Regions from separate parts of the Homo sapiens genome. Here region 1 is linked to region 2. The links come from fine-mapping of genetic effects on gene expression. A gene starts in region 2. The other region holds a variant in brackets. All regions are shown on one strand. Distances are between the middles of the regions.

Region 1 (8,954 bases), 25 kb before region 2:
CATGTAGTCTTTTTTTCTCAGTCTGGATTTGTATTGTTAACTTGTAGTGATCAAAAGAAGATCTATATTGGGGATGACAACCCTCTGACATTGATTGTTAAGGCTCAGAATCAAGGAGAAGGTGCCTACGAAGCTGAGCTCATCGTTTCCATTCCACTGCAGGCTGATTTCATCGGGGTTGTCCGAAACAATGAAGTAAGCAGGCTGCCTCTTTAAAAATTGAAATGCACTCACGGATCTTATTAACATTAATGAGCTGTTCCCCTATTTAGTGAAGCACAAGCTTAGCTATTCTACCTAAGGCTAAATTGATAGACAATGGAGTGCCTATCTTACATAATTCCTTTTAAGCCTAATACTTTGCATAATGCATTGATATGACATTTTTAGAATTGCAAGCTAAGTGCCTGGAAACAAGGTTAGATAGATAAAGTGTCTAAGCCTGTCCATCAAATTATTTGTCAGAGGCTGTATGGTTTTGTATGGTAGTCCTCTAGGGATCTTTCAGAAACACTTCTGCATTTCCATGTGGCAATTGTACCCAATTCTGGCTTTTTCCTTACCTCCTGGTTTGCTCAACTAGATTTATTTGCTTAGGACAAGAAACTGAAATATCCAACTGCGTGATACTTTATTTCCTTTCATATCCATTTTTTTTTTTTTTTTTGGTCTATCAAAGGCCTTAGCAAGACTTTCCTGTGCATTTAAGACAGAAAACCAAACTCGCCAGGTGGTATGTGACCTTGGAAACCCAATGAAGGCTGGAACTCAAGTAAGACAATTTAATTAAACGGATTTTTCTCCCTGGCAAATAGAAAAGCATATTGTTGTCTGGGCTCATAGTAATTTTTAAAAATAAACACTTCAAAACAATGTCCTTAAATTGGTTTCGATATAATAGTTAAATGATTAGCAGAGTTTTGCTTAGTTTTAACTAAGATACGAAAACAATTGGTTGTGCTCCTACACGGTTTGCAATCAGCTGCTCTTTATGCCTCCTTCACTTTAGTGAATGGATGAGAACGTGGTTTAAACTAAGGACTGAAATAATAATTTTTGCTATTTTACACTGATGCCTTAATGGATCCTGAAAAGCTACTCTGGCAACTACCAAGACTGTCAATCCTAGGTGAGCTAGATTCCATCACAGGCCCCACACAGAGGATCAAAGTGAAGGTCAGTTAAATCAGGCTCCCCTTCAGATGGTGGAGCAGGGTGCCCAGGAGCTTGAAAAGAAGCAGCCAATGGCTTGCTTTCCGAATCCTCTAAAAAGTAAACAAAATATACCTTGTAGAATTTCTAGTAGCAAGGACAAAATGGCAGCATATGCTGTGTGACTTTTTCAATAGAATTTATTTAATGACTTATTGATACTGGTACTTTGAAGATCTGTGGTAATACAGGTCTAAATATTCCATATTTCTTTAGTATGTTTTCTATTACAAGTCATTAGTATTTCTAGATGTATGGTATCTTAGGGATGAGAACTTGAACAAATTACCCTAAGTTCAGTTTTTCACGTGTATTCAATGTTTTATTAACAATGAGCATGCCTTTTATTTTCTCATATTCTCATTCTCTCTAACTTTCTGGTTATTATATAGTTTCTGCTTATTACAAGTAGCCAGCTCCAGGTTTTGTGGAGTGGGAGGCAGAACCCAGGAAGTACTGTTTTTATATGTCATTTGTGTGATCCCCAAGAAGCCTTCTTTTTTGTACCTGGTGGTTCAATTGTTTTATTTAAAATCTACCAATTTTCTGCCTGCAGGAATTAGGATATTTGGTGTTGGGAGTGTTATGAGAGGTGTGTGGAGAAATTCTGGTTGTGGCCCTACTCATGCCTTCTTTAGCCATGTTCCCTTACTCTAGTAAACCATCCATTTCTTCTTTCCTGGCCTATGAACACAGCACATACTTTGGTGGTTAGCTTCGTGTTATCAAATTATTGTACCCAGTTGCTAGACTTTCACTGGATCAACAAACATTTACTTTTGCACTTTTTAGAAAGATGGTTAGTATTATAAGGAGGTATAATTATGATTAATAATTGTTGTTAAATAGGCTCTCTTATGGATTGGTCCAGGTATATTAAGTAAAATAGGTTTGATAGAAAATAAGATTTAGTTATCTTTGTTCAGTTTTATTGTAAGCTCAGAAAAACCCCATTTTAGAACATTATTTTTTATTTAGACATTGGATTTGAAATTTTGCTAATTAGACATTGACTAGCATTACTATCTTTTCCTCTCTCCTTTAGCTCTTAGCTGGTCTTCGTTTCAGTGTGCACCAGCAGTCAGAGATGGATACTTCTGTGAAATTTGACTTACAAATCCAAAGGTATGAAAACAACTTATATTCACTTATAACTATCAAATAAATATTATTTGTTGTAAATATACTATGTAATATACTTTAAATATAAAGTAGCAGATTAAATTTTATTGCTTGACTATAGCATTTTAAAATCAATATTTACATTATAAGAATAATTTTATTGTCAGATTTGAGTTTGTAAAACAAAATTTAAAATCCAGAAAGAAAATGTTCATCTTCTTGGAATTAAGTGTTAATGAAAATAACTATTTTGAGGTATAAGCTTTACACTTGTTTCGTTTGTTAATTTTTAGTTTCACTGGGTTTGCCTCTGTATGTTCTTGGTTGTTATGCATAATTCATTTTTAAGTTTTTTTTTTTCTTTTTCAGCTCAAATCTATTTGACAAAGTAAGCCCAGTTGTATCTCACAAAGTTGATCTTGCTGTTTTAGCTGCAGTTGAGATAAGAGGGTCAGTATGAATACTTAGTTGAGTATCTCATTCTCATGATTGCTTTTTAAAGGTAACTGTCAGGCCTTAGCCTTTTCTGGACAATAGACCCTGCATGTTTAGTGGTGGTTTTACTAGGGCATTAGCTTCTGTAGAAATAAAATCCTAGGTATGTTCCAAACCCCCAATACTGGGTGATCCTCAAAAGGAACAAGACATGGCAACAACATGCACAAAATAATTTTGTTGAACTTTTACACAAATTGTCAATTCACCTGTTACGTGTACATTTCATAAGAGCAGTTTTTGTGCATGTGTGTGTTCATTAGTTTTCTTTTAAAGTATTTTTTAAAATTAAATCTAATTTTATTTATTTGAGTAATGAATATGGGGTACTTTTGAAAATGAACTGACTATATCATTTTGATATTCATGGTAGGTTTTCTTTGGTCATTGTTTAGAGTCTCGAGTCCTGATCATGTCTTTCTTCCGATTCCAAACTGGGAGCACAAGGAGAACCCTGAGACTGAAGAAGATGTTGGGCCAGTTGTTCAGCACATCTATGAGGTTTGCAGTTGTTAGATTTTACTCAAACCTCGTGAGCAAGCCAACGAAGAGAGGAACAACTAAGCTACTTTAAAAAAAAAATTCTATGTAATTTTTATGTAAACTCTACATTGGTTAAGTATGTGTCAGAGATTTCTTTGAATATTTTCCCTATACATAAATTCATTTTTATTTGACAAATAGACTTGTTTAAATAAAGCAGTTTATATAATTTGTTGTTTAAAATAAATTAGTTCTACTTGAATAAAGAAATGTCATTGGTACTTTCTCATGGGCATTTTGTAGTTCTGGCTAAAAATTGAAAATACCTATGGCAAATAATCAAAACTATTTCTATAGGAAGAAATTTTCTTTGTCATCCTTCATTAATAACTTTTAAATATTTTGCCTTTTGTTTATACATACATACATATATATATATATATATATATATATATATATTTTTTTTTTTTTTTTTTTTTTTTTTTGAGGTGAAGTCTTGCTCTGTCGCCCAGGCTGGAGTGCAGTGGCGCGATCTCAGCTCACTGCAAACTCCACCTCCCGGGTTCAAGCGATTCTCCTGCCTCAGCTTGCTGAGTAGCTGGGATTACACGTGTGCACCACCATGCCCGGCTAATTTTTGTATTTTTAGTAGGGACAGGGTTTCACCGACAGGTTTCACCACGTTGGCCAGGCTGGACATGAACTCCTGACCTCAAGAGATCCGCCCGCCTCGGCCTCCCAAAGTGCTGGGATTACAGGCATGAGCCACTGTGCCCAACCTTGTTTATATTTTTATCCTGACACATATTACTCTGTGTTAGAGACAAATGTTGAGTTTGATCATTTTTGCATAAAAATGGTCACATTGTAATTAGAGGTTAACTGTGGAAATTGCTGTTATTTAAAACCTATTGCTAACATGATTTCTAAAGTTGATGTAGGGGAAGGATTATGGAACAGATTTTTGCCCAAGGTGTAGATACATTTTCTTTTTTCTCCTTAGCTGAGAAACAATGGTCCAAGTTCATTCAGCAAGGCAATGCTCCATCTTCAGTGGCCTTACAAATATAATAATAACACTCTGTTGTATATCCTTCATTATGATATTGATGGACCAATGAACTGCACTTCAGATATGGAGATCAACCCTTTGAGAATTAAGGTAATATGCTTAATAGCAGCTCTTCATTACAATGATATTTCATTGCCTTCTTTCTAAACCTGTAAAAGAAATTCATAAAATAAAACAACTATTTTAATATAAAACCCACTCTGCAAAAAATGGTTTAGTTCATAAGCAGTACACTTAGGATAAGTTCATTTGTATAATGGGTAAGAATTGATTCTGTGATGTCTAGTGAACCACATCTTCATAGAGTGCTTACTGAGCCTCATGAGATGTGTCCTTCAGTGACTCAGTTTGACCTTGGCTCCATCACGTTGTTGTTTCTTCAGGGCATAATATCACATCAAGGGTGTTTTGTTGTTAAAATTTCTACCTTTGGGATAAGCTATACCATTTTACTCATGATTATCTTGACTTTTGGATATAGTCATCTCCATCATAGATTTGCACTAGAAACTATTACACAATATGATCTAAGGAAAGGTGAAGAAACAAAATAAAAGATATACCCATGATTGACATCACAAATGTACTGTGGAATTTCAGGCCATTTCTGTATGTTTCATCAGTT[T/G]CCACTCTAGCTAAGCAAGGGCTGAAAATAATGGTTAGGGAGAGCTAACTTTTTTGGTACATATTAAAGACTCTAATCTTTATTTTCTGTCCTTACTGCTCACTATATACTGAGTGGTAAATATTCTGTCATACTAAATTTTCATTCACTATTTTTTAATCATATCTAAGAGTTTATATCAAAATGCTGATGTAAAATGTTTTTCATTATCATTTACCACCATTTTATTAATGTGATTGCATTAGATCTCATCTTTGCAAACAACTGAAAAGAATGACACGGTTGCCGGGCAAGGTGAGCGGGACCATCTCATCACTAAGCGGGATCTTGCCCTCAGTGAAGGAGATATTCACACTTTGGTAAGTGCCATTTCAAATATGTGCACCATAGACATTTAAAAATATGTGACTATAGAACTGACGCCAAAGAACATTTCAAAAATAACAACAGCTGTGCTTGAACAACTACATTTATTTTTATACCATGCATTCCTCTCACTTTCCTTTTTCCTAGTCAGATTAATGCCATATTTTCTTCAAATGAGCTATTTTTGTAGATGGCTAATAAAACTAGTTTATGTCCCAACTTTGATTCTCCTACTCTAGTTCTTTAACTGTCCTCTTTCTGGGCCTCCTCCTAATCTCTGAGGCTTTAGTACGATACTAAAAAATCCAGAAGGTCCCAACAAAAATACATTGGAATAATAATTAGCACTTGATTAACCTTTGTTGAGTTAGCCTATATAATGGCTATAATGTTTTTAAAGGCAATTGTTTTTCTTTTTTCTTTTAATTAACAAATCTCCAGATCTCTAGTAGAGAACCTGGTATAGTGTTTTTTGTTTGTTTGTTTGTTTGTTTTTTGACACAGAGCCTCACTTTGTCACCCAGGCTGGAGTGCAATGACACAAACACAGCTCACTGAGGCCTTGACCTCCCAGGCTCAAGCAATCCTCCCCTATCAGTCCCCCAAGTAGCTAGGACTATAGGCGCTCTCCCCCATGCCCAGCTAAGTTTTGTATTTTTTGTTGAGATGAGGTTTCACCATGTTGCCCAGGCTGGTCTCAAATTCCTGAGCTCAAGCGATCTGCCCACCTCAGCCTCCTAAAGTGCTGGGATGACAGGCATGAACCACCATGCCCAGCACTGTTTATGTTCAATAGTGATCACTAGTTACTTTTACATCACCAAATTCTGTGGTTCTTGTTAGTCCTCAACCATTCAATTGCCTAGTGGCTTTGGTTCACTTAATCACTTCCTTCTGTTGACTCTCATGGCTGTAAATACCATGTGGTGTAGATGCTTTGATTTATATTTCCAGTCTGATCTTCTGCATTGAACTTCAGATTCCAATATCCAACTGCCTACTAGAAACTGCTTTTAAATATCTAATAGGAATCTCAAACAATTCTAAATATATACCCTTGGGTTTTCCCAAGTCTGCTCTTTCCATAAAGTTCTTAGTTGATTTTAGTAAATACCAACTTCATTCTCTAACACCTGGACCTCATGCTTGACTCCTCTCTTTCTCTCAAATCTCACGTCTTGTATTTCAGCAAATTGCATCAGTATTTTCTTTCAAAATACCTAGAATCTGGCCCCTTCTCACCAGTTTCATCACTAACACAACCTAACCCAGGCTCCTTTCCCTTCTCGATTGGACTATTGCCAGACCCCTGGTTGGCCTCTGTATTTCTGCCTTTCTCCCCACTATACTTTGTATGCTATAGAAGCCCCAGTGATCCTTTTAAATATAGGTCAGGTTGTGTCACTCCAGTGCCTTCCCATCTAACTCAATGAGAAAGCAAGAGGCTACAATGACCTTTAAGCCCAACATCAACAGGCCCTTCCTGCCTCTCTGCTTGCATCTCCTCTCCTTACTATTCTCTTTCTCAAATTTTCCACCTTGCTTTCATTGAACAGATAGCCCCAAGCATGTTTATTCCTCCATGCTTTGAAAATTGCTCTTCCATCTGCCTGGAATTCTTTGTCCAGATATCCTTGTGGCTTATTTTCCCATATCCTTCTCATGTCCTTAAAAGTAAAATTATGTCAGAGATCTTCCCTGACCAACCCATGTGAAATAGAAACTGCCTTCTACCTCCCAACCCCACTTTTGATCTTGCACTTTCTGTCCTCCTTCAGAATCTGTTTTCTTTAATTGAGACAAAACTTACACAAAATTAACCATTTTAATGATTTTAAAGTGCATAATTTAGTGTTTTTTAGTATAATTACAACATTGAACCACCATTACCACTATAATTGTAAACATTTTTGTCACCCCAAAAAGAAATGCTGTACCCATTAAGCAGTTTATCCATTCTCCCCTATCACCAGCCCCTGGTGACCACTAATCTGCATTCCTACTGATTTGCCTATTCTGGACATTTCATACATATAGTATCATACAACATATGGCCTTTTGTGTCTAGCCTTCTTTCATGTAGCATGTTTTCAAGATCTATGTTGTGGTGTGCCTTAGTACTCCTTTTTTTTTTTTTTTTCTTTTTTTGAGACAGAGTCTCGCTCTGTCACCCAGGCTGGAGTCCAGTGGCGAAATCTCGGATCACTGCAAGCTCCACCTCCCGGGTTCACGCCATTCTCCTGCCTCAGCCTCCCGAGTAGCTGGGACTACAGGCACCCACCACCACACCCGGCTAATTTTTTTGTGTTTTTAGTAGAGACGGGGTTTCACCATGTTAGCCAGGATGCTTGATCTCCTGACCTCGTGATCCGCCCGCCTCGGCCTCCCAAAGTGTTGGGATTACAGGCGTGAACTACCATGCCCAGCCAGTACTTCATTTTTATGCCTGAATAATACTCCATTGTGTGGACATACCACCTTTTGTTTATCTATTTATCAGTTGATCAACATTTCGATTATTTCTACTTTTTGTCTGTTTTGAATGTGTTGCTATGAACATTGATGCATAAATTTCCATGTAAACATGTTTTTCAGTTTTATTGAGAATAAACATAAGAGTGCAATTGCTAGGTCATGTGGAAACTCTATGTTTAACTTTTGGAGGAACTGCCAAACTATTTTCCAAAGTTGCTGCAGCATTTTGCAATCCCAACCAGCAATATATGAGGGTCCTATTTTCTCCACATCTTTGTCAACACTTATTATTTTCTGCTTTTGTTTGTTTTAAAATTTTTATAATCATCCTGGTTGGTGTGAAGAAGTAACTCATTGTGGTTTTGATATGCATTTCCCTGTAGACTGATGATATTCAGCATCTTTTCAGTTGTGTATCTTTTTTAGACAAATGTCTATTCAAATTTTTTGCCCATTTTTAAATTGGGTTATTTGCCTTTTATTGTTGAGTTGCAAAGAGTTATTTATATATTCTGGATACTACCTTCATTAGATATATGATTGCACAGGTTTTGTCTCATTCTGTGTGAACTGTCTTTTTACTTTCTTGATGGTGTCCTTTAATGCACAAAAATTTTTAAATCTGAAGTTCAATTTATCTATGTCTTCTTTTGTTGCTTGTAATTTTGTCATCATATTTTTAAAACCATTGCCCAATACAAGGTCATGAAGATTCATACCTAGGCTTTTTGGTTTTATAAGTTTTACACTTACAGCTCTTACATTTACATCCCTGATTCATTTTGGGTTAATTTATGTGTATGGTGTGAGGTAGGGGTCCAGATTGATTCTTTTGTGTGTGGCTATCCACCTGTCTGAGCAACATTTGTTGAAGAAATTATTCTTTCCCCTTAAATGGTCTTGGCAGTCTTGTTGGAGATGAATTGATTATAAATATATGGATTTATTTCTAGACATTCAGTTCTATTCAGTTGACCTATATGTATATCCTTAATACAAGTAACAAATTGTTTTGATTACCATAGCTCTGGAGTTCAGGTTTTGAAATAGGGAAATATGAATACATTTTATTCCTTTTAAGATTATTTTGGTTAGAGTCCCTTG
Region 2 (8,954 bases):
TAGGGGCAACTCAAATCTAGTTCAAAGGAATAGAAGAAACTCCCGTGTGTGTGTGTGTGTGTGTGTGTGTGTGTGTGTGTGTATGCAGGAAAATTTTTAAAATGAACCTGAACCTAGGTAGTCAGGGGACATATTGCAAACGGCTTTGTAAATCATGTTAGGAATTTTGGATTTGTGCTAAGAGTAATGAGGAGGTACCAGTAGGTTTTAAGTGGGGAAGAATTATATGTGTATAGTATTGTGCTTTGCTTTCTGATGGCTCTTGGGGCATTTTTCTAAAAATGATGAATTTCTAACCTTAACGATTACATTGTGTTTAGCATAAACTTTATCATGGACTATGTACCTGAAAATAACTTGCTGGATTAACTGGCATTTTTCATTCCTTTGTAAAACACACAGACAAACATTTAGGGCAAATGTAGTTATCAGCTTACATCTTCCTGAATGTCTGCCTATGTTTACTCCTGTCATTTGGTTGTGCCTGTGCCAAAAGTCAGTTATATTTTTCACAAACTTTTTCTTTTTTGCCAGTTATATGTGTGATAAGGAATATATACAATATGGATTTGAGATAAGTAAATTTTTCCTATTAAAACTAAGTTTAGGCCAGGTGTGGTGGCTCACGCCTGTAATCCCAGCATTTTCGGAGGCTGAGGCGGGCGATCACCTGAGGTCAGGAGTTCAAGACCAGTCTGGCCAACATGGCGAAACCCTGTCTCTACTAAAAATACAAAAATTAGCCAGGCGTGGTGGCATGCACCAGTAATCCCAGCTACTCAGGAGGCTGAGGCAGGAGAATCGCTTGAACCCAGGAGGTGGAGGTTGCAGTGAGCCAAGATTTTTCCATTGCACTCTAGCCTGGAAGACAAGAGCGAGACTCTGTTTCAAAAAATAAAATAAAATAAAATATAAGTTTAATACTAAGTATATGAGAAAATTCTACAAGCTTGGGAAAAAAATTGAACATAGAATGACTTGGCACTCTAATTGTGTGGCAAGGGTCTTTGAGAACTTCCACTTAAACTAAACCTGCAAATCATAGTGGTATATCATAACTGTGGTTTATGACTTCAAACTCTAGGATGTGGTTGAAATTCTTGGCCCTACATCAAAAGATTTGTGAACAAATATATATTTATTTATTCTAGGGTAAAATATGTGGCTTAAGATATATTTAGGATGTATTGACTTTGGTCTTTTGATGAACTTTTTTCATTTGCCAAGTACTATCCCCAATTGAATCGGATAATATGGCTTTTTTATATTGCACAGAAATTAAGCATGAACTACACGAATAATGAAGCACTTAAAAACTATTTAAATACTCTTGATTGACAACACTTACCTCTTAAAACAGTCCATAGTATTGAAAGATTTGAGGTCCACCCTCTACCAGGGTCCATGACCCAGTGGCTTTGCCTCCAGAAGGTCTGCTTCTACTATATTAAAAATAACTTGGCTACCCCAAGGCAGGATGACAGAAATCCTGGCTGCATTCCTTTCCTTCTGATCCACCAGTCAGGTTTTTGGAGCCATTTCCATTTTCTCCTTTCTTCTCTCCAGGAGCAGAGGTAACTTGGAAGAGATTGCCATAAAAACAGCTTGATGAAACTAATGGAAACTTGCTGCCTTCAGCTCTGGAGCCCCCTCCCCCAATGGCTCCTGCCTCACACAGACCAGGGAAAGAAAGTCCTGATGGAAGAATGATGTTTAGTGTGAGGGGCCTCACTTTAGTATCTATTTTCCCCAAAATTATGTGGTCCACATACCTTATTTTTGTTTTAAAATCACTAAAAAAGCAATACAAACTCATAGCAGAAGTCTCAAACGGTGCAGAAAGGTAAAGTCACACACTGTAAATGTAGCCTCTGGCAAGACATGGAGCCTCTCTGATCTCCAGTGTTTCCATTTGCTAAATAGGATAATGAGAGCTAATTTGTAGAGATGCTCTGAAGATATAATGAGATAATAGATGCAAAATACCTACTGTTATTTTATTTATGGTTATTGTGTCAGTCCATTTGCATTGCAGTAAACTTCGGGTGACATAAAGAAAAGCGGTTTACTTTAGGTCAGTTCTGCTGGCTGTACAACGCAAGTGTGGTGCTGGCATCTGCTCTGGTGAGACCTTAGAAAGCTTACAATCATGGTGGATGGTGAAAGGGAGACAGCGTGTCACATGACAGGAGAGGGAGCAAGCGAGAGAGAGAAGGGAGTTGCCACACTTTTAAACAACCAGATCTCTTGTGAGCTCAGAGCAAGAATTCAGTCATTACCATGAAGAGGGCACCAAGCCATTCATGAGGGATTCTCCTCTATGAACCAAAGACCTTCCACTAGGCCCCACCTCCAACATTGGAGGTCACATTTCAATATGAGATTTGGAAAGGACAAAACATCTAAACCATTAGTTATATATACACTATTTTCATTTGCTTAACCAAAAAATACTTTTCCAGTACTGAGAAGTTTGTTGTTTTCCAGCATATTGAAAACACTGGGAGGGACAAGGTAAGAATGATAAGGGTGGAAAAGGACAATGAACTACAATGGTAAATGGGGTGATGTCACAGCAGGTGACATTTATATTGCACTATGAGATGTCCCACAGTTACTCCAAATACAAAGAGACCACAACTGAACAAGGCAGGGCTCATTACTCTAGGCCAGTTAATGTTGATAAGGTCATAAGCAGCCACCTAAGATCTCAATTTGTCAATTTAGGTGTCACACTAGGCATATCTCCTCCTCTTCCAATTAACCGTATCTGTTTATTGTAGTCTTATATACTGTGTCTCCTACTCTTTTCTTCTCCTTTTCAGTTTCAATGACCTTTGGCATCTCCTATGGGTTTTGGCAAACACCTCTAAACTGGCATCTTCTCTTCCAATTTATCCCCCTTTAATCCATCTGCCATACTGAGAGCAAAGTGATCCTCCTAAAATGCACAACTGGTAGCAAGTTTCTTCCCTGATTAATTTCTTTCATTATCATCTACTGTGTGAATTTCAATTTCTGTATACAGCATCTAAGTTTATTACAGAAGTTAACAAATGTGAAGTACTTGAGCACACAGTAAGTACTATAGAAATGCTTGTTATTATTATTTTTTTAATGACCTGGTCTCCACTCTCCTTTTCAATCTAAAACACTGTCATTCCTCCATTAGAATAATTGCTCACACTTTTGCAAGCCCACTGTGCTTACACACATCTGGGCTTCACACACACACACACACACACACACACACACACACACACACTCTTCCACGTTCCTGATTTCTCCTGTGTGGAAGTCTTACTCTTTTTTATATTCTACCTCTCCTGGTGTTTCATAGCCCCTACATACACAAGATATTTTCTTCCAATTCTGAGACCTCTGGACTTGTATTGCTTTTCTGTTTGTAGCCACCACATTGGGTTCTAATTTGTTCCTGTGTTCCTCTCCCCTAATAGATGTTGAGCTCCTGGAATGCAGGGATTGTATTTTACTTATTCCAAGCACCTGAAGAAATGCTGGCACATGGTAAGCAACTAGTATTTAGTAAGATTTTTTTGAACAAATGAAAAGGATAGGCTAGAATTAGATAAAATGTAATTAAGAATATTTAATGATATGGAAAGAAATTCCCACTAGGGCAGAGAAAAGAAGTTTAGTCAAAATCTGGCGCGCTGCAGTTTAACTTCTAGCTAAGCAATGATGGCGGTGATGCAGCAAAGCCTATTTGTTTGAGATCCTGGCTTTTTGATCCGTTGGTGCCACCCACGCTATGTGCTGGATGGGGGTAATCAATATACCACCTTCTCTGCTACTTTGGGCTCAGGTGGAAGGAATTTTATTCCACTCTCTGCAAATCTTCCCGGTGCCTCAGTGGGAAGTGGACGCTGTGAGGGTCTACCAGCTCCCAGAAGGCCTCCCCTTTCTGTTTCCCCTAGGGCCCTCCACCCGGGCTGCAGCCCCAGCATCGCGTCCTCTCGGAGCAGCCTGGCCCCAGGTGGCTGCGGGGCGCGGGACCGCGGGCCCCGGCTCGCCCCTCCCCGCGCGTCACATGCGCGAGGATGCGAACTCCCCTTCCCTCCTCCTCCGCCCCCTCCGCCTCCCGGGCCTCTTCCTCCTGCCGGTGAGGGAGTGCTTGGCAGATTGCGCGAGGGGGAGCGAGCGAGCGGGCGCTGCCAGGAGCCCGCAGCCCTGGCGCCCGCCGCCGCCCGGAGCCCCGCAATATGCCGCCGCGGCCCTCTGGCTCTAGGCCATGGCGAGGCTCTGCCGGCGTGTCCCCTGCACCCTGCTTCTCGGCCTGGCCGTGGTGCTGCTGAAAGCGCGGCTGGTCCCCGCGGCCGCCAGAGCGGAACTCAGCCGCTCCGACCTCAGCCTCATCCAACAGCAGCAGCAGCAGCAGCAACAACAACAACAACAGCAAAAGCAGCTGGAGGAGGCTGAGGAGGAGAGGACAGAGGTGCCTGGGGCAACCTCCACCTTGACGGTTCCAGGTAGGTCCTGGCTGCCCAGCCCGGTCTTTCAGTCTCGGCCGGCGATCTCTTAGGGCCTCGCCGGCTTCCTCGCCCCTTCCCTATCCATTCCTATCCTCGTTCGTTCCTGTCACCATCCCTCCCGATCTCTCTCCCCAGACTGGCTGCCCAGCCTTTGGTCCCTTGATCTGGTGTCGGGAATCTGCCCTCCGGGTAATGAGCTTTCTGAGCAGCTCAGAGCACTGCGGTGGGTTGGAGAGGGGTCGGGAAGGCTGGGGGTGGGTGACTGCCTGGATTGATCTTTTTCTTTTCCCTCCCTTCTTCCTGAATTCTACCCTCTGCCCTGGGAATGACTGTAACACACACACACACACACACACACACACACACACACACACACACACCGTTCTTAAATCCCTTAAACATTTTGTTCTCTATCCTTTTCTCTCCTAGAGACTGAGAAATCTTGCCATGGACACCCACACACCCCTTTTCACCATTTCTCCATGCCTGCTATATTTAAATTTAGCCATGAAGAGAGAAATCTTTATATATTTTATTATTTATTTCTCTTTCTCTTTACCCCAGGAAGGGTTTAAGGGTTCATCTTATTGCAAAGAACTCTTTTAGTACAATAAGATGAAGCAAAACAAAACAGGAGTTTGTAATTGAAGGAAAGGGAAAAGGAGAGGGGGACACATAAGGTGAAGTCTGGAGTGGTGTTAGAACAGCAAAAGCCTATCCCTAGAGAGAGAAATCTCCTTACTTGTTAGTAGAACTTAAATGAGGCAGATTCTTGACACTGTTCAGTGAAGGTGTAGAAATACGGCTGTAGTATAGGTGGCTGTAACAGTTCCGCAGTTCCTCCCTCTTTCCCCCCATTAAAGCTCCATCGGTAAGCAAATAGCTAGATTATCCATGTATATTGCATCTCCCTACCCCGCAACCCACTTCGCTTCATGGCTGTAGATTCTTGTCTGCTATTTGGAAAGAAAAAAAGCCTCCAATTTTCTGGCACGAGGGCTTAGGTTTTGTGAAACCAAAGTGAATTTTATTATGACGTTTGTTTTTGTTTTAAAATCCTGCCTGGTAACACTATATGAGTGCTGAAAATGAGATTTGAAAGAGTGGAATCAGCATCACATTTTGTATTGCTTGCTCATCGTCAAAAAGCAGTACACAGGCATGCCAGCTGCGATTCATGACACAGCCAGGATGATTTAATTTATCAGAGTGCTCTGAGCATAGGATGAAATCACCAAAGTGTGCAGGAAAGCATGTGTTTCTGACACCCTCTTAAACCAATTAATAACACTCAAGTGTGGCTAAAAGTCTTGAAAGGTATACAGTGTATGGTGGTTTTCCTACCCAGCTTTTAATAACTGAAAGTGATAATATGGTTTGGGTGAGGCTGCTGTTAGACATACTGTTCGCTAAAGTTAAGGAAATTGGATATATCAGATTGATTGGCCTCATTAATAGAGATATTTCATAAATTCACTATGAAGCCGAAGTCTGGGAGAGTGTTGGTGGGTTTTATGGTTTGCAGTATATTTTTATTTCAATGGACCTTTCAGGAATATTAAATGAATTTTGACTACTGTAATATATATATATATGTTGTGATTAGGGTTATGAACTACTGCAATAATATGAAACCTGAATCCAGCATGCAAATTAAAATGTTTGCTTTCTGATATTTGTGAGGGAATATTCTGAAAAAGCTGATTGTCTGGGAAATTAGCAGTTTTTGTTTTATTTACCTATTAGATTGAGATAAAGGAACCACACTCTTCGATAGATCAAACTAGAACCTGAGAAGTAACCTATGATGATTCTTCTTCCTCAAAAACTCTAATTACCCAAGCCAGTGGCAAACAAGGGAGTAATTCAATTGATTGCTGTTTTAGTTATTGGAATATTGAGTCTTATAATGCAACACAGCTTATAGACAAATGAAGTTAAAATATTCCTTTGAATGCATTGTGATCTCTCCATTGAACTGGTCTTCCTGTTTCAACCTTTGTTTCCCTACTGTCTGTTCTCCTCACACAGCTAGCGATCTTTAAAAAAAAAAAAAACATTAAATAGGATCATTTCTGCCCACACTCCTCCAATGGCTTCCCGTCTCTCTCATACTAGATGCCCAGATCGTGAAAATGGCCTACCAAGGTCTAGATCCTTTGTATCCTCCTTTTCCTCCCGTCTCCTTTAGCCCTTACCCTAACTCTCTCCACTGTAGCCACACTAGCTCTATTTTCTTTAGCTTGCAAGTGGACCCAAGTGTTTGGCCTTTGCACTTGCCATTTTCTCTGCCTGGAATTCTGGAACTTCACATTTTTCAGGTTTGCTCAAGTGTCTCAGTAACTGACAGACCTTTTCCTGACCAGGTGTTTAAAATAGTAATCTGCACATCCTTTTTGCTCTTACCCAGATTCATTCTCCTCCATGGTACTCATTATTCTCAGCTGTTCTAATAAGCCTGTTTTTCCCTTGATAGAACATAAGCTCTGTGAAAACATGGACTTTGTTTTGTTCACTGCTATATTTCTAGTATCTCGAAGAGCACCTGGTTGGTACCCATAGACATTCAACCATTTGTTGAATGGATGGACGGATGGATGGATGGATGGATGGATGGATGGATGGATGAATGAATGAATGAATTCACTTTCTCAGCATTTGTTCGTCTTCATTGGATAAATTCTCCATTGGAGTTTAGCAGGGGATTTATAAAGATAAACGTTATGTAGGAAAGTTTGTAAGTAGAAGTTATAAAGTATGTAAATTTTGGATCTTTAATTTTAGTTAATTTCAGTGTTTATCTTATGCTGACTACAGAAAACTGATTGATACCTATACTTGGGCCTACTTATTGGGTTTTGTGAAGAATTTGGGGTTTTTTTTGAGACAGGGTTGAGTGCAGTGGCGTGATCATGGCTCAAGTCAGTCTCAACCTCCTGGGCACAGCCTCCTGAATAGCTGAACTACAGATGCGTGCCGCTGGGCCCAGCTAATTTTTAATTTTTTTCTTTTTGTAGAGATAGGGTCCTGCTTTGTTGCTCAGGCTAGCCTCAAACTCTGGAACTCTGGGCTCAAGCAATCCTCCCATCTCAGCCTCCCAAAATGTTGGTTTACAAGCATGAACCATAATTCTTTACCTGAGTATACTTAATCTTCTTATGACCTAGGAGGATTTTAACATATATACCTTTAAATAGCTGTGATTGAGCTTGCATTCATTCTTTACCGCTGTATGATGCTTCTGATTCTTTGGACATGCCACATGAAAAACTGTAGGACTTTTCTCAGGCAAAATTTAGAAAACAAATATGACACATTCAATGACTGATATATGACTAAGCCTTATCAGTCCATAGTAGAGAAACTCACCATTGCCTTTGCTTAGTATTCTCTGGATTTTATTATTCTAAAAATTTATGTCTCTTTGTATTGCTGAGAAACAAGAAAGCAAGATTAAAAAAAAACTTGAATGTGAACATTTTTTAAAAATCAGGATTTAAAAAAGTACATTTCCATTTTCTCATTAACTTATAAAAACTCCATCTTCAGAGAGCAGTGAAAATAAAGACTAAGGTTGGTATCCATCAAATCAATTGTTTTCTCCAGTGTATACAACAGCTCTTATTTCTCCATCTGTACCAGTATTTGTTAGAAATATTTGAGGGTCCTGAGAAGAATTAATCTGGGAGCTAGTGGTAGTTGGGACAACCATATTATATTAATTCTGATGGCCCATTAGATGGGAGGCATGCTGGGGTTGGGGGAGAGAGGAGCTGGAGAAAAATAATGAGCTCCATTTAAAATTCTCCATGTGAAGCAGAGACACAGGGGATCTCCAGGGATCATAGAAATGTCTTTTCAGTACAGAGAAAGCTTCTTGAGAGGTATATTTTCATGGTGTGAAAATTTTTGATTGCATATTTCAGTGATATCTATTTTTAAACTTTTTATTTCGCAAGATGTTAAATATATAGAAAGTAAACAGGATAGTGTAATAAAAGCCTATACCTGTCACCTAGCTTTAACAATGGTCAAAATTCTGCCATTGTTTTTTCACCCATACTTCTACCTGTTTCCACTACGTGGGATTTGTTTTTAATTTTTAATTTTTATGGGAACACAGTAGGTGTATATATTTATGGGCTACATGAGATATTTTGATACAGGCATAAAATGTATAATTATCACATCAGGGTAAACATTTATCATTTGTGTTACAAACATTCCAGTTATACTTTCAGTTATGTTAAAATGTACAATAAGTTATTGTTTACTATATTTACCCTGTTGTGCTATCAAGTAGTAGATCTTATTCGTTCTACCTGACTATATTTTTATACTCATTGACCATCCCCACTTCTTCCCCACTCCCAATACCCTTCCCAGACTCTGGTAACCATCATTCTAATCTCTATCTCCGTGAGTTTAATGGTTTTACATTTTAGTTCCCACAAATGAGTG

Alleles and levels. Alleles are on the strand shown, and positions count from the first base shown. SD is a standard deviation of normalised expression in the study named.
In carriers of allele G in region 1, the expression in sigmoid colon of the gene that starts at base 4,139 in region 2 tends to be lower than with T alone (small effect, 0.32 SD a copy in GTEx).

The links. PIP is the estimated chance that this variant, and not a neighbour inherited with it, causes the effect.
Region 1: its variant is fine-mapped to the expression of FAM171B in sigmoid colon (GTEx, PIP above 0.99). The same link has a PIP of 0.9 or more in esophagus mucosa, esophagus muscle, sun-exposed skin and unexposed skin.

The regions. Positions count from the first base shown.
Region 1 is chr2:186,664,447-186,673,400 of GRCh38, forward strand. It overlaps ITGAV (integrin subunit alpha V), which reads left to right. Exons shown (of 30, transcript NM_002210.5): 20 at 48-195; 21 at 680-772; 22 at 2,258-2,337; 23 at 2,704-2,784; 24 at 3,225-3,330; 25 at 4,316-4,474; 26 at 5,255-5,368. Among named protein-coding and RNA genes, the nearest start is that of FAM171B, 25 kb to the right of the region's middle. The variant T/G (reference allele first, on the strand shown) is at 5,010.
Region 2 is chr2:186,689,922-186,698,875 of GRCh38, forward strand. FAM171B (family with sequence similarity 171 member B) reads left to right here and starts at 4,139. Exons shown (of 8, transcript NM_177454.4): 1 at 4,139-4,490. The coding sequence starts at 4,253. RefSeq lists a silencer at 3,943-4,302.